Linked DNA regions of Homo sapiens. The protein of the gene in region 7 purifies or fractionates together with the protein of the main gene of each other region. This does not show direct contact. Each region holds a gene or a part of one and is shown on either strand. Other genes may lie near its edges. The genes, in order: ZRANB3, ANKRD27, TRAPPC8, AGBL5, FBXO10, ZDHHC18 and TPCN2.

The links.
Region 1: the proteins of TPCN2 (region 7) and ZRANB3 purify together in Homo sapiens (affinity purification with mass spectrometry; 2 studies listed by BioGRID and IntAct, with this or other methods). This does not show direct contact.
Region 2: the proteins of TPCN2 (region 7) and ANKRD27 purify together in Homo sapiens (affinity purification with mass spectrometry; 2 studies listed by BioGRID and IntAct, with this or other methods). This does not show direct contact.
Region 3: the proteins of TPCN2 (region 7) and TRAPPC8 purify together in Homo sapiens (affinity purification with mass spectrometry; 2 studies listed by BioGRID and IntAct, with this or other methods). This does not show direct contact.
Region 4: the proteins of TPCN2 (region 7) and AGBL5 purify together in Homo sapiens (affinity purification with mass spectrometry; 2 studies listed by BioGRID and IntAct, with this or other methods). This does not show direct contact.
Region 5: the proteins of TPCN2 (region 7) and FBXO10 purify together in Homo sapiens (affinity purification with mass spectrometry; 2 studies listed by BioGRID and IntAct, with this or other methods). This does not show direct contact.
Region 6: the proteins of TPCN2 (region 7) and ZDHHC18 purify together in Homo sapiens (affinity purification with mass spectrometry; 2 studies listed by BioGRID and IntAct, with this or other methods). This does not show direct contact.

What each region holds. Positions count from the first base shown.
Region 1 is NC_000002.12:135,528,419-135,532,707, forward strand, and holds the start of ZRANB3 (DNA annealing helicase and endonuclease ZRANB3), read right to left. Parts: upstream 2,801-4,289; 5' UTR 2,709-2,800; intron 2,313-2,708; exon of another isoform or gene 2,080-2,312; intron 1-2,079. UniProt on the Homo sapiens protein: DNA annealing helicase and endonuclease required to maintain genome stability at stalled or collapsed replication forks by facilitating fork restart and limiting inappropriate recombination that could occur during template switching events.
Region 2 is NC_000019.10:32,665,181-32,668,680, reverse strand, and holds part of ANKRD27 (ankyrin repeat domain-containing protein 27), read left to right. Parts: intron 1-3,500. UniProt on the Homo sapiens protein: May be a guanine exchange factor (GEF) for Rab21, Rab32 and Rab38 and regulate endosome dynamics.
Region 3 is NC_000018.10:31,873,629-31,877,128, forward strand, and holds part of TRAPPC8 (trafficking protein particle complex subunit 8), read right to left. Parts: intron 1,077-3,500; coding exon 852-1,076; intron 1-851. UniProt on the Homo sapiens protein: Plays a role in endoplasmic reticulum to Golgi apparatus trafficking at a very early stage. Maintains together with TBC1D14 the cycling pool of ATG9 required for initiation of autophagy. Involved in collagen secretion.
Region 4 is NC_000002.12:27,058,168-27,061,667, reverse strand, and holds part of AGBL5 (cytosolic carboxypeptidase-like protein 5), read right to left. Parts: intron 3,269-3,500; coding exon 3,066-3,268; intron 2,479-3,065; coding exon 2,264-2,478; coding exon of another isoform or gene 2,199-2,263; exon of another isoform or gene 2,133-2,198; intron 1-2,132. UniProt on the Homo sapiens protein: Metallocarboxypeptidase that mediates deglutamylation of tubulin and non-tubulin target proteins.
Region 5 is NC_000009.12:37,513,887-37,517,380, reverse strand, and holds part of FBXO10 (F-box only protein 10), read left to right. Parts: intron 1-1,295; coding exon 1,296-1,477; intron 1,478-3,494. UniProt on the Homo sapiens protein: Substrate-recognition component of the SCF (SKP1-CUL1-F-box protein)-type E3 ubiquitin ligase complex. Mediates the ubiquitination and degradation of BCL2, an antiapoptotic protein, thereby playing a role in apoptosis by controlling the stability of BCL2.
Region 6 is NC_000001.11:26,829,688-26,833,187, reverse strand, and holds part of ZDHHC18 (palmitoyltransferase ZDHHC18), read right to left. Parts: intron 742-3,500; coding exon 581-741; intron 1-580. UniProt on the Homo sapiens protein: Palmitoyltransferase that catalyzes the addition of palmitate onto various protein substrates, such as CGAS, HRAS and LCK. Acts as a negative regulator of the cGAS-STING pathway be mediating palmitoylation and inactivation of CGAS.
Region 7 is NC_000011.10:69,065,932-69,069,431, reverse strand, and holds part of TPCN2 (two pore channel protein 2), read right to left. Parts: intron 1,930-3,500; coding exon 1,827-1,929; intron 1-1,826. UniProt on the Homo sapiens protein: Intracellular channel initially characterized as a non-selective Ca(2+)-permeable channel activated by NAADP (nicotinic acid adenine dinucleotide phosphate), it is also a highly-selective Na(+) channel activated directly by PI(3,5)P2 (phosphatidylinositol 3,5-bisphosphate).

The DNA.
Region 1 (4,289 bases), on a different chromosome or scaffold from region 7:
ATTACAGGTATGAGCCACCAGGTCAGACCTCTACAAGTCTTATTTACCTTCATTGAGCCTCACTTTCTTCAAATATAAAAATGTCAAGAAGACTTACAGTTTGTCATAAGGAAAATGTACTTATCACACATAACATCATTTCTGGCTCAGACGAAACTCAATAAAATGATGGCCATCATTACTATTTAGTGACTAGATTTACACTGGAAGAACTCCTGACACAAACAAATAAAAAAAAAAACTAAGCATCTACAGTAGACTGCATTGCTAAATTATCACTGAATATCCTAATTGCATTAAAAAGCAAGAGACAACACTTTGCCTGGTAGATCTACAAAAATGTCTTGCTGCAAGGTATGGTTACATTCCTATATCTAGCAGGATTACACTATAAAATTTACCATCTTACTTTGTATACAAACATCACTCGTTAGTATTGGACACAGATTAGTGCTTTAGTAAAAACAATGCAAAGAGGAAAACGTGCTTATTTTAATCCAAAGGTAGAATGTAAAGAAGGGACCAAATAAACATACAAAATGTGACTAAAGAAGACTTGACTTAGAGATTGAAACAGTAAGTGACATTACAATTTTGTTTAGCCTCTCTCTTCCTCACAACTTTTGGACAAGGAGCCTGTCTTTTTAGGCACTGCTCTACCCAAAGTCTGGTATAGTACCCAATACAGTGTTAAGCGCTCATACCATAAATACAACAGGATTTATAAGAGAAAATCTCAGTAAAATCATGGAGTAAACTGAATTAGAATTTATCTGAGAAAGTCTCAGTCAAAATAATAAAGCAAAGAGTTTAAGAATAAAGGGCACACGCATAGGGAGGGAAAAACCCTTTTCTGTAACTTGTATCTTCTTTATTCAATCAGTTTTCCTGGGTACCTTAAATGGAATGTCCAAAAGTATACATACAGTCGCCCTTGAACTCTGAAGGAGGCATAAATCAGGGCCTTACGTGCTAAGATTATTAGGCTGTGGGCTCCATGTGGCCGATGAATAAAGGCATCTTTTTAGTGATGCCTTTATTCATCGGTGTATTATAGTTGGCACCCTGTAGTCACACGTTTTTTGTTTTTGTTTTTGTTTTGAGACGGAGTCTCGCTCTGTCACCCGAGGCTGGAGTGCAGTGGCGCGATCTCGGGTCACTGTAACCACTTCCGAAGTTGAAGCGATTCTCCTGCCTCAGCCTCCCGTGTAGCTGGGACTACAGATCCTACAGATCTCTGCCACCACGTCCGGCTAATGTGTGTGTGTGAGTTTTTAGCAGACACAAGATTTCACCATGTTGCCCAGGCTGGTCTCGAACTCCTGACCTCAAGTAATCCTCCCGCCTCGGCCTCCCAAAGTGCTAGGATTACAGGTCTGAGCCACCGCGCCTGTCTGCCACTCGTTTAATAAATGGTCGTTACTCAAAGAGTGGTGATGGGGCCACTCTTGATTATCAATCCTTCAAACAGAAAAGCCCTTTTCTGTGACTCTTTTCCTTCCAAGCTGACTTTAGAAGTGTGTTTGTGGCCGGGCGCGGTGGCTCACGCCTGTAATCCCAGCACTTTGGGAGGCCAAGGTGGGCGGATCACGAGGTCAGGAGATCGAGACCATCCTGGCCAACATGGTGAAACCCCGTCTCTACTAAAAATACAAAAAATTAGCTGGGCTGAGTGGCGCGCGCCTGTAATCCCAGCTACTCCGGAGGCTGAGACAGGAGAATGGCGTGAATCAGTGAGCCAAGATCCCACCACTGCACTCCAGCCTGGGGACAGAGCAAGACTCCGTCTCAAAAAAAAAAAAAAAAAGTGTGTCTGTAAATGTAGTTCAGAACTTCGGAGCCCTGTCTTTACAGTTCAAACTGACCACGCGAAGACTAAAGGCAGTAGAGGTACTTTCTACAAATTTAGCCGTGCAATCTAATAGCGAGCAGGCCGAGACGCCCGCGATTGAAGGCCGGGGTGGAGAAAGTAATAAGGGCCCTGGAAATTACCCCCATCCCATGTCACCCACTCTTTCTTAAAATGCCATTAAATTCCGTTCAACTTTTTATCTCCCATGCAAGAAACTAGCGACTTGCCAGCCACGCCACTTCCAGCCAGTCACACCTGGCGTATTCGCCGCAGAATCTCCAACTCCCGCCACAGGTTTGGGACGTGTCCGCCCCTAAGCGGAAGTGACGTTCAACGGGACAACGTGAAAGTAGATGAGTTTAAATACGTACTAATAATTTAAAACCCCTATGGTATTTTGAGGAAACTCTTCCGGCTACCCTTCTTCCATCACTTCTCTCCCGTTAGGGTTGCGAAAAGGGCTCTGTACAGCCTCGCGACAACTCGTTCTCCGCCCTAATTTCAAGTCATTCAAAACTCTGTCCCTTTTCATTGGCTGAAGCGGCGGCATGGGTACCTCTCAGGAACTACAATTCCAGCCAAGCACCGCGACAAGTGAACGGAGGAGAAGTTATGAGTAGGGGAAAAGCATGTTGGGAATCGTAGTCCGCTCCAGGCCGAAAAGAGCAATCACCCCGCCCTCCGCCACTGAAGCTGGAGAAACCAGGTGTTCGTTTCAGAACCCGTTAGCGCTAAGGGGAGGAGCCAACCCCTTAAGCAGCATGCCTCACTTCGCCCCACATGGAGGATAATTTTCCTTTACCCCTAAAAAGCACTATAAATACCCACTGAGGAGATCTGGTTGTCTTTTAAATACCTCGAGTCAGTAAAAACTCACGAAACTCCGCACCTCAGGCTCCAACTCGTGGGAAAAGGTAGCTCTTTTACAAGTGGGCAAAATGGCTGTCCTCCTAGTTTTACCATTGGTTGGCTTTTGCGTCCTTCAAGGGCGGTTACTTACCACGGATTGGTTCTTTTTCTCTTGAGGTTGGAGGAAGATTTGGCACGGCTCTCCGCGGCCTGGGAGGAGGTAAAGGGGTGGAGAGAAGACAGTTTTTTTCAAGCTTGATTGGGCAAAACTCATGTCACTCCGGGGACGTACAACCTATGAATAGTCGGCTGCCGCTCAAAGAGAACGAAGAGGCGGGGCTAGTGCGTGGTGGGAAGGGGCGGGATTCTGCCAGCCGCGGCTGCCGCTGGAGCCGGTGTCCGGGCTGGTGATGGGGTTAATTCCCTTTCGTAAGACTCTTACTTGCACCCACCCAGCCCCGCCGTCGCCCCGCCGCGCCGCGCTCCAACCGCCTCCTCCTCCTCAGTAACGCGGGTAAGAGATGCCCTTCCCTCCCCCGTCCAGCTCCCCGGGAATAACGCGCCTTGCTCCCCTCCCCCGCCCGCCAACCGGTAGCGCTAACGGAGAAGGAGGCAGGCAGGGGAGAGATGTGGTGTGTGGAAAGGTGGCCTTCCCCGCCGGGTCGTCGGCGCTTCAGCCAGGGCCTTCTGACGTCCCGCTGCTGCCAGCCCGCCGTTAGGTCGGGTTCCGAGTGAGCCAGGCTCGCCTGGCCCGCGGCTGCGGCTCCGGCTGCAGCTGCAGCCACTGCCTTGTGCCCACCGCCCCCACCCGGGGGCCATGTGAAAAGCAAACCCCTCGAGGCCTAGCGGAGGAGGCAGGGGAAAGGTTTCCGAGTCCCTGCCATGGCTGCTGCTGCTGCCTCCGCGGCTGCTCTTGCAGCCCCAGGGACTCGGGAGCCAGCCACAGCAGGCCTGCCAAGAGCGTGGTACTGCTCTCTCGTGTGGCTGGCGCCGGTGCCCCGGGCTCCCCCGGCCGCCCCACGGCCGCATCCCCTGGCCTTGCACCAAGAGAATTTTCAGCTTCGACCGGTTGGTAAAATGTAGGTACATTTTCCCTGTGGTACCAGAAAAAGCACAATGGGAATATTAAAAAGAAAGTTGAATGACTGTCAGTGCCACGGTCCCCCGGGATCAGATTTACACACGTTTTGATTCCTGAGCCTTAGGCTGCCAACAAATCTTTGTGGGCTTTGAAGTTTTTTGGTGTTTTGTTTTCTTTTGTTGCTGTGACTAGGTGCAAAGGGTGACTCTGTTGAGCTTGTTTTTATAAAGAAACTTAAATTATTGGGACTATCATGCTCCGTGTGTAATTGTCCTGGGATAGTTAAGTAAAAGGTGAAGAAGAGGTGCTTTCCAAATTAGGATTAGTGAACAGCAAATGGTTTTTCTAATAAAATTTTCTAAATATATATATATATATCTTCATGGTTATAGTTTACCTAATTGTAACTGTAAGAAACCTTTTTTAGCTTAAATATCATTGATGACAAAAACTTTTAAATGAAAAGATGATTAAAGTCAAACTGAAAGTCTACCCATTTATAATATG
Region 2 (3,500 bases), on a different chromosome or scaffold from region 7:
AACTTAGTGAGACCCCATCTCTACAAAGAATAAAAAAAAAATTAGCTAGGCATGGTGGCTCATGCCTGTAGTCCCAACTACTTGGGAGGCTGAGGCAGGAGGATCACCTCAGCCCAGGAGGTCAAGGCTGTAGTGAGCTGTGATTGTACCAGTGTACTCCAGTGTGAGTGATAGAGCAAGACCCGTCTCAAAAAAAAAAAAAAAAGATGAAGATAAGACTGGGCACAGTGGCTTATGCCTTGTAACCCCAGCACATTGGGAGGCCAGGGCAGGAGGCTCACTTGAGGTCAGGAGTTTGAGACCAGCCTGGGCAACATAGTGAGACACTGTTTCTACCAAAAACAAAACAAAACAAAAAATTTAGGCTTGGCCAGGTGGCTCATACCCGTAATTGTGGCACTTTAGGAGGCTAAGGTGGGAGGATTGCTTGAGGCCAGGAGTTTGAGGGTGCAGTGAGCTATGATTGTGTCACTGTACTCCAGCCTGGTCAGTAGAGTGAGACCCCAACTCATAAATAAATGAAGGTAAGTAAGTAAAGATGAGGATGTATAGAAGTTATTGCAGTGCCTGGTACAAGGACTCTCCCAAATGGTGGCTATTTTTACCATTAGTTCCAAGGAATAGAATTCATCATGCAGTTATGTATGCATAGTGTTTTCCCAAGGAAGCATTCTGGATCCCTGTTACATAGTGAGAGAGTAGCTCCTATTTCATATTTCATTCATTTAATTGTATCAAGGATAAATTCACTTTTACGCTTTTTAAATAGTTGCTGATTTTCTCATTTTAATGAAGAGAGAAGGCCCCAGGCTCAAGCTTAGCATCTAATGACTTTTTTTTTTTTTTTTGAGACGGAGTTTCACTCTTGTCGCCCAGGCTGGAGTGCAATGGCATGATCTCGGCTTACTGCAACCTCCATCTCCTGGATTCAAGCGATTCTCCTGCTTCAGCCTCCTGAGTAGCTGAGATTACAAGTGTGTGCCACCACGCCCGGCTAATTTTTGTATTTTTAATAGAGATGGGGTTTCACCACGTTGGCCAGGCTGGATCCGCCCACCTCGGCCTCCGAAAGTGCTGGGATTATGAGGTTTTAAATAACAGTAATTACCTTTATAATTTTTAACTTTAAGATGATCTTCTCTTCGTTGGAAGTGATACCATTTTTCTATTTAAAGTAGTAATAAGATTTCTTTTTAAAATAAATTTTAGGCCAAGGATGGTGGCATATGCCTGTTGAGCCAGGAGTTCAAGACCACCCTGGGCAACACAGCGAGACTCCATTTCTACAAAAGTAAACAAAAATAAAACAGAAAGGAAAATACATTTTTATAAAGACAATAAGTTATTGAAGGAAAATGTCAAACACTAGCAAGAGAGCCATTATGTGTAATTGTTGGGCAAAATTGTGCTCACATTGTGGGCAGGTTGTTCACTGCCCAGCAGCAGGGGCCGTGCAGCATGTTACCTAGGAGCTGCTCACTAGCCTAGTGCCCTTGCACAGAGCTGCGCCCCCTGGGAAGTCGGGTGCCTGTTTCTAATTCTCACAAAGGTCCCATGTGAGCTTGCAGTAACTGGTGCTATGTTGATATGCAGTACTGCATGTCACAGATAGTGAAGGTGGCATGGAAATGACCCTCATAAGAGTCCTGCAGACAGGTATTAGCATTCTCTGTGGTGCAGGCCCAGATGGAGGCTCAGAGAGGTGGGATGACGTGGTTAGAAATCTGATCTCCTGGCTGGGCATGGTGGCTCACGCCTGTAATCCCAGCACTTTGGGAGGCCGAGGTGGGCGGATCACTTGAGGTCAGGAGTTTGAGACCAGCGTGGCCATCATGATGAAACCCCGTCTCTACTAAAAATAAAAAAATTAGCCGGGAGTGGTAGTGCACACCTGTAATCCCAGCTACGAGGGAGGCTGAGGCAGCAGGAGAATTACTTGATCACAGGGGTGGAGGTTGCAGTGAGCCGAGATTGCACCACTGCACTCCAGCCTGGGCAACAGAGTGAGACTCTGTCTCAAAAAAAAAAAAAAAAAAAAATAGAAATCTGATTTCCTTTTCTGTGCCCATTTTGTAGGCACCCCCTCTGAGAGCTCATTGGCTCAGAGGAGCAGACCAGGGGTGATGAGGAGCAGCTATAGAATGTTTCATGAAACACACAAAGCACTGGTTCACATTAGTTAGCAGCATGGAGCAGTCTGCAGACAGCAACATCCTTCAAACAGCTTACTTCCTAAAGTGAGTTGAACACTGACCTGTAATCTTCTTTTGGCCGTTCACAGACCTTTCAGTCATGAATCATGGAAGGGTCTTCTCTGGCTTCAGAAGTCCCAGTTCTGATGGTAGTGGTAGGTGTGTTCCATACTGATTCTTATTTTATCTGTACAGCGTGACTCTGATGTAAGTCCATTTGGCTTTTGCTTTTAGAACCTTACCTAAAATAAGCAATCTAATTTTAGCAACCCCTTTCACAACAGCAGCAAAGTCTATACAGAATATATAAATAGTCTAATAAAAGTCGTATACGATCCTTATGGAAAAGTCGGAGGACATCGAAGAAGACATTCATGGAAAGATATACCATGTATGTGGATGATAAAATTCATAATTATAGGGCTGAGTGTGGTGGCTCACGCCTGTAATCCCAACAGTTTGGGAGGCCGAGGTAGGAAGATCACTTGAAGCCAGGAGTTCAAGACCAGCCTGGCCAACATGGCGAAACCCCGTCTCTACCAAAAAATACACACAAAAAGTTAGCTGGTGTTGTGGCGTGTAGTCTGTAGTCTGAGCTACTTGGGAGGCCGAGGTACGAGAATTGCTTGAACCCAGGAAGCAGAGGTTGCAGTGAGCCAATATTGCGCCACTGTACTCCAGCCTGGGCAGCAGAGCAAGACCTCTGTCTCGAAAAACAAAAAAAACGGCAGGCTGGGCGCGGTGGCTCATGCCTGTAATCCCAGCACTTTGTGAGGCCAAGGCGGGCGGATCACGAGGTCAGGAGATCGAGACCATCCTGGCTAACACAGCGAAACCCCATCTCTACTAAAAATACAAAAAATTAGCTGGGCATGGTGGTGGGCGCCTGTAGTCCCAGCTACTTGAGAGGCTGAGGCAGGAGAATGGCGTGAACCCTGGAGGCAGAGCTTGCTGTGAGTCAAGATCATGCCACTGTACTCCAGCCTGGGTGACAGAGCAAGACTCTGTCTCAAACAAACAAACAAACAAAAATTAGCCTGGTGTGGTGGCGGGTGCCTGTAATCCCAGCTACTTGGGAGGCTGAGGCAGGAGAATTGCTTGAACCCGGGAGGCAAAGGTTGCAGTGAGCTGAGATTGTGCCACTGCACTTTAGTGTGGGTGAGAGAGCGAGACTCTGTCTCAAAAAAAAAAAAAAAAAATTCATGAATTTAGTGCGGGTCCAATAAAAATCCTAATAGGATTTTTCATGTAATTGACAAGGTGATTCTGATTCATTTGATATTGTAAAGGACAAGGAATAACCTTTGG
Region 3 (3,500 bases), on a different chromosome or scaffold from region 7:
AATATGTTAAGCAAGAATATTAAGATATGTAATTACTAGTTTTATTTCTCATATCAGTCATAAAATTTTACAACTCAGAAGCACTTCAGATATTTATTCTGCCTCAAAAGAATCTTACTGAGGTTACTCAGCTAATTACCTGGATGTTAAATATGCAAAACTTATTTTAGTAAGCGTTTTACTTCTTATGACTCATTATAGCATCCTATCTGCCAAAATTCTAACCCATATAATTTCAAATTAATAAAGTCTAGACCCTAAAGGTAGTTATTTTCTGCACGATAGATATAATATGCACTATTCATAGGCCTTGGGAAAAAATTTACAACTTCCCATTTTTTCCATAAAACAATGCTTTATATGTTTATCTGCTTGCCTCAGTGAAACAGTCCTTCTTCCTGTTAATTTTTCTCCATTGCACCATAATAGCCTGTCTACTTTCCACAGATCCATACCCCCTCATCTTTCACAAGGAAAAGAACATAGAATGTCCATCTCCAAAGGATGGTAAAGAGAACCCACTTAAAACCAACTGTAAAATCAGTTGTGAGTCTATAAAAGCATGATGAATAAAGAATCCAGAAAACCTGTGGAATCTTTTTTTTTTTTAAGATTCTAAGAACAGCCACAAATCAAGTGTTCATTGTAATATTAAAATTCTCTTTTCAAGAACTGTGGAAGGGGCAATGTAACCAAGATCTATAGCCAAAAAGCCTAGCCTGCCACAGCTTTTTTATGACTGATAACTACATATATTCTAATAAAACTATCGTAAGATATGGTAATAAATAAATACTTTCACACTAAAATACAGTTTTAATATCTATTCCTGAATGAAAATAAGCAGTCACCTTGTAAACATAAAGATATTCTCTGAGGAAAGCCCCCTGTTGAGCAGCAGATTGTTTACTTTCATTAATTAGAATATGCCTAAAAGCAGACACAGCATTATCCAGCTGTCTAAGAGTATAGGACTGGCGCCCAATAGTGAAATTAATGTGATCCTCTGCAAGAGACCAGCCTTTTCCTTTGTAAACTTGCATGGCTTGACAATAACAGCGTAAAGCATGCTTTTTCTGTAAGAAAATAAACAAAATAATGTATTATACTCCAAATTTGTTTGAACTAGAAAAAACAAATACAAACACACACATAGAAACAATTAAGTAACTGGTTCTTCCTCTAAGGGGGACTGGGATAATGAAGAAAATAAAACTAACATTTATGATAATCCCTTCACAATTATATATGGAATGATATAGATAAAGTTACCTGAGCCATTGTGTGTGTGCGTTAGATAGGAGTAGGGTACCTAAAGGAAGAAAAGGGAGGCCAGACTGCTTTGACATTTACCCACTACTTCTCTGAGCCACAATTTCAAAACGTCAACTTCAGAGGAAAGAGCTTACTTCTCAACTTGACTTTATCTACCTTAAATTCTTTCTGGAAAAAGGCAAGGGATATGTAAACAAACTTCAACATTTAAAATGGTCAGATTTCACTAATATGATGATGAAAAAAATGTTCTCATACTTTAACTAGAAGCATGCTATGTCTACAAAGAGTTTCTCCATATTAAGTAAAACAATAAACACATTTATCAAAGTTTTTTCTTGCCTACGATCAGAGACTTACATTGAATGTATGTGGCCACATATGCCACAGTTTTCCACAGTACAAATAATATATAATAATATATATAGTAGTATATATAATAATATATAAATAAACTTTTTTTTTCTATATTAAAAATTCACATACTGGACCAACCATGCTGATCCCAGCCTGCCTGCCTGCCTGCCTGCCTGCCAGAACTCACTGGCCAGTGTTGTGACCACTGAAAGGTTATGCCTCACACGGTTCAAATAAAGCAGTGGGCTAGGACAGCAGCACAGTAAACACTGCCTGGGCAAGACATGACGGGGTTCTCTGCCAGCATCAGGTGCTACCACAGCCTCCTTTTCAAGGTGCTGTTGGCAAGTGTCAGGGCATACTTCCTGGTATTCAGTGCATTTACTGCAGGACTTAAGAAGAGCAAGAGATTAATAATATACCAGAATGATATACAAGATGTGTGTTCAAAATGGAAAATTGCAAGGAATGCCAAAATCTTACAAGTATTGCAATAAGAATGCAATATTTGTGGCAATAAACATCATCAATGTAAAAAATCAAAAGAGGTACACAGAAAGACAGATCCTGCATGTTCTCACTCATATGTGGGAGCTAAAACAGTGGATTTCATGAAAATAGAGAGTGGACTGGTGGTTACCAAAGGCCAGGGAGAGTGGGTGATAGAGAATGAAGTTGATTAATGGGTACAAATACATGGTTTGATAGAAGAAATAAGACCTAGCGTTAGACAGATCAGCAGGGTGACTATAGTTTACAACCATCTACTCTACATTTCAAAATAGAGAATTTGAATGGTTCTAAGGTGATGGATATCCCAAGTTCACTGACTTGATCTTTATAAATTATATGAATGTATGAAATTATCACGTATTATACCCCAAACTATGTATGTTTATTATGTATCAATTTTTTTAAAAGGAGAGTATTTTCTTCAAGATCGCTTACAGCCGGGAGGGGTGGCTCACGCCTGTAATCCCAGCACTTTGGAAGGCTGAGGCGGGCAGATCATGAGGTCAGGAGATTGAGACCATCCTGGCTATCATGGTGAAACACTGTCTCTACTAAAAATACAAAAAATTAGCCGGGCATGGTGGCGGGCGCCTGAAGTCCCAGCTACTCAGGAGGCTGAGGCAAGAGAATGGCATAAACCTAGGAGGCGGAGCTTACAGTAAGCCAAGATTGTGCCACTGCACTCCAGCCTGGGCTACACTGCGAGACTCCATCTCAAAAAAAAAAAAAAAAAAAAAAAGATCACTTACTAGGGACCTCAGATCCTCAGATGCCAGTTCTCCTCAGAAAGATCAAAGTAACTAATTATCCAAACAGAAAACTGAGAAAAGACAGCCAGGATATGATGAAGAACCCATGGAAAGAAACTAGAGTGCAGGAAAGAAAAACAACAAGAGTTTGGCAGGGATCGAGTGCTGAGGAACACAAAACCCCATGGAAAGGGTAAGTGGGAGTACTTCTCTGCTGCCCTCACCCCTCTGACCATCTGTTCACCATCCAACTGATGGGGAGTCCCTCTGCCCTCATGATGCAGGACAACACTAACAGTGGCAGTTTGAGAACGTCCCAGGGACAAGGATGTGGGTGGCCAGCTCACACAGGCATGCCCGCCCTCCTTTCAGGCCTGAACTGAGACAGGAGATACCACTGCCCTGCCCAGGAAATCTCTGCTCTTGAGTCACCACCGCACCACCAGATCCCTAACATATTCACAACTGCTGTGACATTAGCAAGTTTAGGAGACCAGTGGGTCCCCAGAGAAGGTGTGAGACCCATGGAGATGTAACCGTTAATTTAGGCTGCCCCTAGGGGAAGGGGGGACAGTAGCCTGCCAAAGCCCCACCTTGAGACAAAGG
Region 4 (3,500 bases), on a different chromosome or scaffold from region 7:
GGTTGGGTGCAATGGCTCACGCCTGTAATCCTAGCACTTTGGGAGGATGAGGCTGGTGGATCACCTGAGGTCAAGAGTTCAGGACCAGCCTGGCCAACATGGTGAAACCCGTCTCTACTAAAAATACAAAAATTGGCCGGGCACAGTGGCTCACGCCTGTAATTCCAACACTTTGGGAGGCCGAGGCAGGCGATCACGAGGTCAGGAGTTCAAGACCAGCCTGACCAACGTGGTGAAACCCCGTCTCTACTAAAAGTACAAAAATTAGCCAGACGTGGTGGCGTTTGCCTGTAGTCCCAGCTATTCCGGAGGCTGAGGCAGGAGAATCACTTGAACCTGGGAGGCAGAGGTTGCAGTGAGCCAAGATCGCACCACTGCACTCCAGCCTGGGCAACAGAGCAAGACTCGGTCTCAAAAAAAAAAAAAAAAAAAAAAAATTAGCTGGATGTGGTGGCATGCACCTGTAATCCCAGCTACTCGGGAGGCTAAAGCAGGGGAATCGCTTGAACCCAGGGGGTGGAAGGTTGCAGTGAGCTGAGATCACACCACTTCACTCCGGCCTGGGTGAAAGAGTGAAACTCTGTCTCAAAAAAAGAAGGAAAGGAAAAGAAACAGAAGAAAAACTTTAAGCAGATTTACCATGGGAAACTAGGCCACTGGAGCATGAGAAGATACAAGTTGGAACAGCTGTGCAATCTTGGAGAAACCACTCTTAAATAGCCTCAGTTTACTTGTTGGAAAAATGGAAACAACATCCATCCCATAGCGTCTTTGTGAGGATTAAATGAAATTTATATATATGATATTATCTTGTTCACTGTTAAATGCTATGTAAACATAAGGCATTATTATTATTTTTCAAACACAGTGCACAAGTGTCCTTTCCTGATGAAGATAGACTCTCAAACAATGGGGCCTGGAAGCAGATAATCAAGTTGCCTGTCAGGGATAGAATATCTCAATGGTCACAGCTGGTAAGGACCATTGCCCTCTCCTCCATGGCTTCTCTCACTAGCAGTCAGATTTACACAGCCACTGACACAGCACATGTCTGGTCTGTACCAACAGCTAGGGTGCAAGCTGGGAAAAGCTAACAAGGATGAGTATGCTGGAAGACCAGCAAAGCTCTTAGCCCCAGCTGACAAGCCTCCATACTCTGGGCAAGACTTCTGTAGTGCAGAGGCCAGTACAGTATTGATTTGTGGTTTAGCGTATTTCCAGAAGTGGCACTATAACAATCTCTCCCCCTCCGCAATCCAGGTTACTCCCGTTAATTTTCTCTTCTTTTTCCCTAAAGGCCCATCTGTTTCTGGTATATAATTTTGACCCAGAATCTTATCAGGCAGGGTCTCATCAGGCAAAACCTGGGGGTTACTAATGCACAGTTAAGCAACTGTGCTCACTGCTGGAAAGAGCTAGACTGCTGCATTTTATACCTAGAAAAGAAATTGTCTGCAGTTGTTCCATTTTTCTTTGGAAGAGTTAGAATCCTTCTGATATCACTTTCTTTTCTTTTTTTGAGGCAGAGTCTTGCTCTGTTGCCCAGGCTGGAGTGCAGTGGCACGATCTTGGCTCACTGCAACTTCTGCCTCCTGGGTTCAAGCGATTCTCCTGCCTCAGTTACCTGAATAGCTGGGATTACAGGTGTGCACCACCATGCCTGGCTCATTTTTGTATTTTTAATAGAGACGGGGTTTCGCCATGTTGGCCAGGCTGTTCTTGAACTCCTGGCCTCAAGTGATCTGTCTGCCTCAGCCTCCCATAGTGCTGGGATTATAAGCATGAGCCACTGCACCCAGCCCGGTATCACTTCCTTAATGAGCTCTGAAGCCAGGAAAAATTTCAGCCCATAAAGACCACAGATAAGATTCCCCATCATTCTACAGTACTGCAGTTTGGATTCTGAGGACATTCCCTTAACTGCCCCCATGAAGACAGACTGACATTGTCCGTGACGTGGAGGCTCCATGTCCTGTTTGGCACTGCTTCAGCTAGTGTTTCATCCTTGGAAACTTCCCTGGCTCCTAGCATGCACTGAAGCCCAGATACCCAGACTTCCCCCTCTGGCCACACACAATACCGCTCTGGAATCATGCCGCAGGGAACACCAAGGTCGTAGGAGAGGCCACAGGTTCTGCTACAAACTAATTTTATTGATTCACCCCTTGGTCCTGGGCCAACAGTATATCTTCAAGCTCTTACTTCCCCCAGCAATGCCCCAGACAACCGAACACATGTTGCAGGGGCTCCCAGACTGGCTTACCTCTGACGGGGCCCAGCACCCGGTGGGTGACCTTTTGGGTACTAGAGCCCAGGCCTGGCAGCCCTGCAGGCCGACTGCCATGAAAAGGAAAGCTGGGGGAATTCTTCATCTGTGGAGAATTTTGTTGGCTGCTGCTGCTACCACCGGCACTTGTGCCGGTGCTAAAACTTCGTGCCCGACTCAAGGTGTTTTCGGAGCAGGAGACAGGCAACCCACTGCAAAGAAGCAGATGCCAGTTAACCCGGGCCAGGAAGGTTGTGTCCTAAGGCTTTCCCTAGGATCTGCTGCTCAGTAAAGCTTCACCTCTGGGGTAAAAAGGCACAGGGACCCATCCCAAGGAAGAAGTGAGGAATTCATGTCCGTGGATGAAGTATCTAACCTGGGGAATACCAGCTAATCTCAAAATGTCTTAAGGGCCATCCCTGAGCAGCTTTATCTCCCAATGAATTTCACCCCTACTGCCTTGGCACTGACCCTTGAACTCCCTTCAGTCAGTCATTCACAACCCTTGGAAGCTGAGGCCTGCCCCACTGCAATTATATTTGATTTTGTACAGGGCTCTGCAGCAGTGAATCCCAAGCCTGATACTCAGATCTCTTAGGTGTATGTAGCTCAGAATAAAAGGGAAGAGGATCCCATTCTAAAAGAATAAACTAATCTGACTAATTTTAATTTACCCTGAAGATATTTGCCATTTGGCACTTTGAGGAGGATGGAAGGAATATAAATCCCTTGGAACTCCTAGCTCTAGAGCCCTGTCCCACTGTCCTACCCTTTCTCCCTCCTATTTTGCTGGCCTTACTTGTGACTTTTGGGTGGAGTTCGAAGGCCCCTCTTCTTGTTGACACCCACATTCAGAGTGCTGCTTAGGCCTCGGCTGTTGCGTACATGTTTCAGCATCCAGGCCCGTAGATTAGTAAGGCTGCTGTGCTCTGACAGTACAATTCGGGGCCACGGATTACATTCCGCCATGTCCAGGGCTGCAATGGCCATAGCTCGTCCCACCTGTGGGGTAGTCCAGTTTGGCTCAGCATGCTGGTCCTCCCATCCAGGCTGCTACCTTGGGGTGGGTACACAGCACAGTGGAAGGGAAGGAGGGGCCAGACCTATAATTTGCTCATTGGATGCCCTAACCTTTGTGCCCAGGCTGTTTATTGCAAACGGATTTGGAGCTGTTCCCTAAACTACCGCCAATTTGGGGGCCCTCTTCCATTATGAGGGGCAAAGTGTGTCCTTT
Region 5 (3,494 bases), on a different chromosome or scaffold from region 7:
GGCTCTATTTTTATTTTTAGTTCAACAGTTTTTGGGGTACAGGTGGTTTTTGGTTATATGGATAAGTTCTTTAGTGGTGAATTCTGAGATTTTGGTGCCCCTGTCACTCAAGCAGTGTACACTGTACCCAATATATAGTCTTTTATCCCTCACCCTGCTCCCACCCTTCCCCCTGAGTCACCAAAGTCCATTATATCATTCTTATGCCTTTTCTTCGTCATTAGCATAGCTCCCACTTATAAGTAGTGAGCAAGTAAGGACATAGGATATTTGGTTTTCCGTTTCTGAGTTACTTCTCTTAGAATAATGGCCTCCAAGTCCATCCAAATTGCTGCAAAGGCTGTTATTTCATTCTGTTTTATGGCTGAGTAGTATTCTGTGGTATATATATACCACCTTTTTTTTGTTTTTTTTTTTTTTGAGATGGAGTTTCACTCTTTTGCCCAGGCTGGAGTGCAATGACATGATCTCAGCTCACTGCAACCTCCGCCTCCCAGATTCAAGCCATTCTCCTGCCTCAGCCTCCCAAGTAGCTGGGATTACAGGCATGTGCCGCCATGCCCAGCTAATTTTGTATTTTTAGTAGAGATACCATGTTGGTCAGGCTGGTCTCAAACTCCTGACCTCAGGTGATCGATCCACCTGCCTCAGCCTCCCAAAGTGCTGGGATTACAGGTGTGAGCCACTGCACCCAGCCTATACCACATTTCTTTATCCACTCTTTGGCTGATGGGCAGTTAGGTTGGTTGCATATTTTTGCAATTGTAAATTGTCCTGCTATCAATATGCGTGTGCACATGACTTTTTTTCCTTTAGGTAGACATCCAGTAGTGGGATTGCTGGGTCGCCTAAAGCCTCTTTACAGTTCTGCAGCTTCGTGGGTTAGTGACTTTAGGCAAAGAGTAAAAATGCTGGGGCTTTGCCTCTGAGCACTGTGGGAGCAGAGGAAGGGAGAGAGGGACACACTTTCGTCTCAGTTGGGTTGCCAGTGGCCCTGACTTCTGACACTGCCTCCCCTCTCTGCCAGGCCTTTGCATATTGTTTCTCCTTCCTGCAACAGCTCTCCCTGTTGTGCATCTGATAAATGCCTACAACTCACCTATCACCTCTTCCAGGAAGCCTTCCCTGGCTCCCCCAGGCTGTTCTTGGTGCCCTTCTTTGAGCTCATAGGCTCTTCACTGACCTGCCTGGCATGTTCCTGCCTCTTGGTTTTAGAACTGATAATTCACTTGCCCAGCTCTCCCACTCAGTCTGTGAATCCCTGAGGTGTGACAATCTCTGGCTGCCTCTCCCAGGTAATAAAGAACCGGATCCACTCGTTCCGGGCCTACGGCATCGCCGTGCGGGGCCGTGCCAAGGCCCTGGTGCAGGAAAACATCATCTTCCAGGGCAAAACCAGTAAGACCATCTTTCAGCAGATCTCAAACAACCGAGAATGCATCATGCAAAACAACAAGTTCCTGGTCTTCAAGAAAAAGTGAGTGCTTGGGGTTGCCTGAACGAGTCCTCTAGAGCCACAGTAAGCTCCCTGAAGAAGCCAGGCCCACACCCAGGGATTGTGGCTGCCCGGGCTCCCTGCAACCCTGCCAGCTGTCGACTCCAGTCAGAAAAAGGCCTGTGCCTGGCTCTATGTCAGGCCCGGGCTGAGGACTCCCCAGGAGGGAACAAGCTTTTTAAGAGTCAGGGGTATGTGGTTTCAGATCTCAGCTCTGCAGGTTACTGGCTGTGTGACCTTGGGCAACTTACTTCACATCTTCGAGCCTTAGTAAAATCCATTTAATAAGATCACACTATCTGGCTGAATCTCTGAGGGGCTGTAAAAATGTTAGTTGATGCTGCTGCTGTCCTTTAGTCACTCTGCCTCAATGTATCACAATTGCCGCCACCCATCTTCCTCAAACCTGTCTGTCCTTTCACGTTCTCCATTTCAGCGACATCACCATCCACTCAGTGTTCTGACAACAAAACTTCTGCTGCCTTTTTCTCCCTAATCCGAAGATGTCCAGTCAGTCAGTCACCAGGTCTTGTTGATTCTGCTTCTAAAATGTTCCTTTTTCCAGCACCTCCTCTTCCCCAACTGCCCCCATCCTAATTCAGGTCTCAGCACCGCTCACCCTAACCTGTACCGCCTGTGTTACTGCAATGCACAGCTGTTCCAGTTGCTTCTGCTTGGGCTGTGTTCTGATTGGTCCGTGCTTTCGCTTTCACATTCTGGTTGTAAAATCATACTGATATTTGCTGTAGTTGGTATCACTCCTGCACCGCCAATGTCACCTGTCCCCCTGCAGCAGCCTCCTGCCAGTCTCCCTGCCCGTGGCCACCCCCTGCTCCACTCTGGAGGTTGTCCCATGCATCCTGCCAGGTTAATCTTTCTAAGTGAGAGCTCTGGTCAGTCACATCACATCCATGGTTTAAAACCTCTCATGGATCTTCATGTTCTGTTGTAATGATCTCCATACTTTTTGTATTACACACACTCTCGGGAAAAAATATTCTTTGAAGAAACCCCCCGATGTAGGTATACCTAATTATTTATTTATTTATTTAGAGACCAAGTCTCACTCTGTTGCCCAGGCTGCAGTGCAGTGGTGCGATCTTGGCTCACTGCAACCTCTTCCTCCCAGATTCAAGCGATCCTCCTGCCTCAGCCTCCTGAGCAGCTGGGATTACAGGCGCCCACCACCACTCCCGGCTGATTTTTGTGTTTTTAGTAGAGACAGTTTCGCCATGTTGACCAGGCTGGTCTCGAACTCCTGACCTCAGGTGATCCACCCGCCTTGGCCTCCCAAAGTATTGAGATTACAGGTGTGAGCCACCGCGCCTCACCGGTATACCTATTTATAACTTATATATGTGTATTCTAGCAGTATATTATTTACATTATAAACTATCCCCAAAATAGAAAATTTTAAAGTATACAGTTAAAAAAAACCAAAATTCTAGTATTTTCTTCCAATATCCCAGCAGATTATATTGTGGACTCCCTGGGATCCACCTCCTCCTTCCCTTTGGAGACCCCAGGGTACAGGATACAGCCCGGACTTTGCCAATGCCAGCTCTGGTATTGTCCGCTGTGTACCCTGAGGTCCTAATTGTCTTTTCCAGCCTCTCATTTCATCACTCCTTTTCAGTAGTGCTCCCCTGCTGCCAAACTCAAATACATACAGTCCTCCCAACATAGCTTAGGCCTTTTTATTCACATGCTAGTAGCCAACCTCTGATTCCGTCCACACCTTTCCAGTCCTTTCATTGTAACATCATTATCATAAAAATACATATAAGACAATGTGTTGCCTTAAGCAAATGGAGACTTAGTGTGTAAAGTTGGTTCCTTGTAACTCAAGCATCAGAAAACTCTGACCACAGCTTCACTATCATTTTATTTTCCCTGGCCCTCCATGCTCTCTACAAGAGTTTGGGTGACTGGAAACCCACCAACTTCTATCCCCCATAGATTTGCATTTTCCCAAATGTCATATAAAAGAAATCGTGGC
Region 6 (3,500 bases), on a different chromosome or scaffold from region 7:
CCTCCTCCTCAACTGTCAAGCTCCATGAGGACAGGGACTATTGTCAGTTTTGTTCACTGCTGTATCACATCTAGAAAAGTGCCTGGCACATAGTAGGGGGTCAATAAATGTTTGATGAGTGAATGAATAAGTGTATATGAATGTTTAAGAGCAGGTGCTCTAGACTGAGGTCTCATCTCAGCTCTTCTACTTACTTTGTGATCTTGGACCCTCTTTTGCCTTGATTTAATTAATCAGTAAAAGGAGAATGACAACAGTACCTACCTCATAGGATTACTGGGGGATTAAATAAGATCATGCATATAAAGAGCTTAAAACAGTGCCTAGCCCCCAGGAACTACTCAGCTCCACGCTGGCTGCCATCGGGGCCTTTGCTGGCTGGCCAGCATTTCTTGCTTACTTATTTGCTCACTTGTTGATCATCTGTCTCCCTCTGTGCCAGTGTCAGCTCCAGCCTGCCTTGCTCACGACTGCATCCCCAGTTCCTAGTATAGTTTTGGAAGAGAAAACCAGGCCTCCTCCCAAGTCAGGGAATGTGGAGCTATGGAGACCCAGCTTCAGCTGGGAGTAGAAACCTCACCGATCTGTTTCTCCAGGGCGGCTGCTTCACAGACAGTGGCCCGGGGCAGGATCCCAGGGTCGGTGAAGCTTGTCTGCAGCAGGCAGCTCATGACGAAGAAGAAGAGGATGGCAGCGATGATGGGGATGGCAAGGGTCAGCTTGCGAGCCAGGTAGGGACAGCTAGAACGAGAGATGGAGAGAGATCAGCAGACACCCCAAGGGCTCCCTGCGGCACAGGGCTACAGCACGTGGCAGGCGCTGTCATTCCAACAACCACCACCAAAATCTTGAATACAGCCTCGCTCTGAGGCAGAGGCACAGCTCCTTGATGAGTGCAGCCACTCCCCAATAAGTACCGGGAACAGACATCACTAATTGATCCTTGTGATATACTTTCCTCCAGAGCACATGGCAGATGTGTCCAATAGATCCCAGCACTCCTAACCTCTGCATCCAGAGAATCCCTCTACACACAGAGCTTCAGGCAGACACTAGTGGACTGTCACCTGAGACAAACCATCCTGCAGTGTTCATTCACTCATTCATTCACTCACTCAGTCCACAAATATTTACTGAGGTCTTCTCTGTGGCAGGCAACACCTTCAATAAGCAGCAGGAATAATGACGACGGATAAGACAAGAGTCCCTCCCCCTTGTGGCTTATGGTCTAGTGGGGAAAACAAGACATGTAAACAGGGAATTGCCACACAGGGTGATGTGTGCTCTAGTGGGGGAGGGGAACGCAGTAGCACAGTCAGGAAAGGCAACCTGAAGGAGACAATCCTAAGCTCCAACCTGAAGAATGAGTAGAGGGCTGGGGGAACTGCATGGTCCAGCCACTGTCACTGTGACCCAAGGTAGGCAGGTATCCCCAAGGCAGTGCTTTCAGACCCCCTGACCCTGGCTGCCTCAGAGAATAGCCTGTGCCTGCTGAATGGTCATGCCTCTGTCCCCCAGGGAGGCTGCCTACCACAGCCCTCTTCAAGCTCCCTCCTCCATCTTAGGGCTAGAACATTCTAGAAGTTCTGGACACTGGTGGGAGAATGGCTTCATGATAGTGAAGCTATCAGGGCTCTCTCTCTATGGCCAATCCTCTCTGTTGTCACCTCACTGTCCACCCAGAAGCCAGAGCCACTTTTGGAAATGTCAATCAGATCATGTCATTTCCCTGCTTAAAACCTCCCAATTGCTTTCCATATAGTTTGAATACAATCCAAACTCCCTACCATGGCCTTCTAGGCCAGGCATGATCTGGGCCCTACTGAGGACTTCAGCCTCATTCTACAAAACTCTCGTCTTGCTCCTGCTCCTCCCATCACAATAGCCCATGACAGTTCCTATAACAAGCCTGGCTCTCTCCTACCTCAGGGCCTTTGCACTTGCTGTTCCTTTTCTCAGATTCCTCTTCCCTCCTCAGAAGGACCTACCTTGACAACTCTGTACACAGTGAACTTCAATGCTCTTTCTTTCCTGTATAACATTTAGTATAGATTTCAGCTACTTGTCTATGTGATGGCTATTTTTCTCTCACTAAAACATAAGCTTGGCCAGGCGCAGTGGCTCACGCCTGCAATCCCAGCACTTTGGGAGGCTGAGGTGGGCGGATACCTGAGGTCAGGAGTTCGAGACCAGCCTGACCAATAAGATGAAACCCCATCTCTAATAAAAACAGAAAAATTAGCAGGGTGTGGTAGCATGTGCCTGTAATCCCAGCTACTCAGGAGGCTGAGACAGGAGAATCACTTGAACCCGGGAGGCAGAGGTTGCAGTGAGCCGAGATCGTGCCATTGCACTCCAGCCTAGGCAACAAGAGCAAAACTCTATCTCAACAACAACAACAACAACAACAACAACAAACAAACATAAAAAAACATAAGCTCCTCTGTGGGTATAGACTATGTTCTCTTGTTCAGCTTTATATTTCCAGCACACTGCACAGCACCTGGCACCAAGGACGTACCCGGTAAATAACTGCTGCCAGGGGACAGAAAAATAGCTACCATCTTTTGAAGGCTTACTATGTGCCAGACACTGCCCTAATTAATAAACTACTGTTAGCAACATCCAAAGTACAGATAGTTACTGTGCTATGTACAGATAGTTACTGTACTATGTAGATAGTTACTGTACTATCTACAGATAGTTACTGTACTACTGTACCTGGATGGGCCAGGTACCAGGCTAAGCAGTTCCTGTGTACTTTCTCATCAAATCCTCACTGGGACCCTGTGAAGTTATGCTCCCCACTTTACAGATGAAGAAACTAGAGCTCAGAGAGTTTAAGTAATCTGCCCAAGGTCACATGGCTCAGGAGTGCTAAAGTGGGACCCAAGCCAGGTCTGACTTTGAGGTTCATACTTTTAACCATCACCCCATAGCCAGAGTAGCACCTGATCAGGTAAGGAGATGACGGGGCCCTGGGAGGCCTGAGATCAACCAAGCTTCCAGGAGTGGCACAGTAGGCACACACCTGTGGGCACCTGCATGCTGCTTCTGAAGTCTCCGTCATCAGATGCTCTGGCCTTCAGAGAAGCCCTTCCCCTGAGGAGCAGACTGCCAAGGCCAAGGGCTCCCAGTGGGTCACACTCTGCTCCATACATCTCAATGGTTTCTGGGTCTGACCCTCAAACAGAACCAGTGGGCGCTCAGTGTCACCCACATGGCAATGAATCCAGTTCATATGCAATCAGACTTGTGTGGGGGGACAGAGAAGACTTGAAATCTAAGACTTGTAGAGCCTGCAGGAACCACCAAGTCCTAGCCTCCTGATTTGCCAGAGGCTAACAGCTCTCCCAGGCCCACAGCTAGGTTCAAGGTCATCTAGCCAGCCAATGACAGAACTAGGGTTTCCAGCCTCCCAGCAAATACACTGTCAATTAATTCAAATACACTGTCAATTCATTCATTCAATAAGTATTGAGCACCTACTGCATACCAGG
Region 7 (3,500 bases):
GCGGTCACTTCCTAGGACTCAGACGGTCCTGCTCCCACTGCGGTCACTTCCTAGGACTCAGACGGCCCTGCTCCCACTGCGGTAACTTCCTAGGACTCAGATGGTCCTGCTCCCACTGCGGTCACTTCCTAGGACTCAGACGGTCCTGCTCCCAGTGCGGTCACTTCCTAGGACTCAGACGGTCCTGCTCCCACTGCGGTCACTTCCTAGGACTCAGACGGTCCTGCTCCCCCTGTGTCACTTGCTAGGACTCAGACAGTCCTGCTCCCACTGCGGTCACTTCCTAGGACTCAGACAGTCCTGCTCCCACTGCGGTCACTTCCTAGGACTCAGATAGTCCTGCTCCCCCTGTGGTCACTTCCTAGGACTCAGACAGTCCTGCTCCCACTGCGGTCACTTCCTAGGACTCAGACAGTCCTGCTCCCACTGCGGTCACTTCCTAGGACTCAGACAGTCCTGCTCCCAGTGCGGTAACTTCCTAGGACTCAGACGGTCCTGCTCCCAGTGCGGTCACTTCCTAGGACTCAGACGGTCCTGCTCCCAGTGCGGTCACTTCCTAGGACTCAGACGGTCCTGCTCCCAGTGCGGTCACTTCCTAGGACTCAGACGGTCCTGCTCCCACTGCGGTCACTTCCTAGGACTCAGACGGTCCTGCTCCCCCTGTGGTCACTTCCTAGGACTCAGACGGTCCTGCTCCCACTGCGGTCACTTCCTAGGACTCAGACGGTCCTGCTCCCACTGCGGTCACTTCCTAGGACTCAGACGGTCCTGTTCCCACTGCGGTCACTTCCTAGGACTCAGACGGTCCTGCTCCCACTGCGGTCACTTCCTAGGACTCAGACGGTCCTGCTCCCACTGCGGTCACTTCCTAGGACTCAGACGGTCCTGCTCCCAGTGCGGTCACTTCCTAGGACTCAGACGGTCCTGCTCCCACTGCGGTCACTTCCTAGGACTCAGACGGTCCTGCTCCCACTGCGGTCACTTCCTAGGACTCAGACGGTCCTGCTCCCAGTGCGGTCACTTCCTAGGACTCAGACGGTCCTGCTCCCACTGCGGTCACTTCCTAGGACTCAGACGGTCCTGCTCCCAGTGCGGTCACTTCCTAGGACTCAGACGGCCCTGCTCCCAGTGCGGTCACTTCCTAGGACTCAGACGGTCCTGCTCCCACTGCGGTCACTTCCTAGGACTCAGAGGACACAAGAGACAGCACTCAGGGTCCGCAAGATGAAAGGCACCAGCCAGGGTGGCTGGGCCACAGCCAAGCCCAGGACCGTGGCCTCCATCCTGGCCACACCTGCACCTGAGCAGTGGAGGCCCCATGAGCATCACACAGGGTGAGCGTCGTGGCCAGTAAGACCCTTGGCCCTCACATGCTGCTGCCCAGTGGCTCCCACAGCTGAACCTCGGCAGCAACCGCAGCGTGGATGTGTGGAGCTCCAGCAGGACGGCACCAGGAGACCCCTCTGACCACTGCCATCATCGCCCTATGAAGAACACCAGCCACTTTCAGCTTCTCAGAGGAGTGAGTAGACAAGGAGGAAGAGGAGATGAAAAGAAAAAGGGAGGAGGGAGTGAGAAAGCAAAGGAATGAGACAGAAAAGGAAAGAAGGAAAGAGAAGGGACAAGAGAGAGGGAGAAGAAAACCAAGACAAAAAAAGAAGAGATAGGAAAAGAAGGGGAGGAAGGAAAATGTCACCCTTTCTTCTCCACTTATCGAAAAAAAGGCCTCAGAAACTCCCACTGGGTTCTAAGGCTCAGCAGCCCAAACCGGCCCCCCAGTGCTGGGCTCACCGACCCCCACGGTCCCTCCCTGGCCCTGCACGCACCATCGGGGTTGTTGGCCGTGGTCAGCAGCACCAGGAGGGAAGTCAGAGACTCAGGCAGGTTCTGGAAGTAGGTCAGCCTCTCCCTGTCCTGCCCATCATCCTGCTAAGAGCAGAAGCGGCAGCTCCAGGGCACCACTGGGTCCCCACCCCACAGGCTGAGCTCCAGGCCCCGGACCCAACCGGCTGGAACCATCCACCCGCCGCCCAGCCTGCATCTCCCTGTGGCCTCCCAGCAGGCTGAGCTCATGGCCAGACAGGACCAAACTCAGGATCTCCGGGCGCAAGAGTGGGCACCCAGGGAGACCGCTCACCCGCATGGACACGGTGCCTGGAAGCAGGCCGGCTCAGAACCACAGCAAAAAGCCCTCAGCCAGCCTAGTGACCTCCCTCAGGCCACCTCGCCTGCTCGCAGCCGACTCTGCCATGCACTGTGCAAGCAGTGAGGCTACGGGGCAGAGGCAGGAGGGGCAGGAGGAGCAGAGGGGCCCAGGCTGCCAGGGTGAGATAGGTTGGACCCTTCGTGAAGCCTGCTCTAGAGGCTGTGTGTCAGGGCCCACGGCCGCCCATAGCCACCCACGGGACTCAGTGGCACTGTGCTCGTGGCTGTGGCGAATCACAGCCATTGGTAAGGGGGCATCCACACCGGAGTCCCTATCCTCTCTCCCTCCTGAGAGGGGTCCCAGCCACAAAACACAGCTGGCACATGCAGTGTTTCTGCTCGGAAAGCAACTCTGCTTGAGACTCCGGGCCCGGGGCTCTCACTGGGGCCAGGCTCATGGGCACCCTCTGCCTACCAAGCCTCCAGACCCCCCAGCTGGAAGATGGGTGGTTCCCGCAAACCAGACTGGTTGTATGAACTGTGGGGGCAGGTGGCACAGCGGGACTTGGCACACAAAGCAACCTCCTCTCTTAGGGATCGTTTCAAAGCCACAATCCCAGCTGCTGGCCAAGGGGCAACCCCGCAGGCAGGCCCTGGCATGGAGGCACCTGTGATGGCCACTCTCTGTCGCACAGGCCGCCCTTCCTGCCTCACAGCCGCATCAATAGCACTGAGGCCTCCAAGGCCTCACCTATAAAATGGCACTGTCCCCTCGTCTGTCCAGTCAGGGGCTCCCAAGGACACGTGAGCTAATTGGTGAAGACTCCACAGTCTGCTGGGGGAGGGGGCACAGGGGCCACTGAGAGGAAGTTAGAAGGCAGGGAGCGCTGTCAGGCACAGAGCCACGGGTAGGGACAGGCTCCCCTGCTGGGGAGAGCTAGGCGGGCCCCTCCTGGGCCTCAGCCCAAGCCAGAGTGGAGGAGCAGAGCAAGGCCTTCCGAGGCCTGGAGGGCAGGCTGGCCTCCAGCAGTCACCGGGGACGGCAGGACCACAGCACTGGGTCCAGGCCTCCCGGGCATCCCCCGTCCCACCCTCACCCAGTCAAACCACCACGTTCCCAAATGTAAAGCAACCCACCGAGCGCCCATGGAGCAAGGTTTAGGGCCAGGCTTCGAGCCAGCTGAGGCACACCACCTAACAGACGCTGAGGTCCATAGAGCCGACAGAACTCCCTAAGGCAGGTGGCCCTGCCCCGGCCCATCTCCCACCCCACACTGTGTACCTCCCAGCAGGCCTCACGCTCCTCCTCTACAATTCAGCTCCAGACCCTAGGCATGACTTCCCGTACCTCCTGC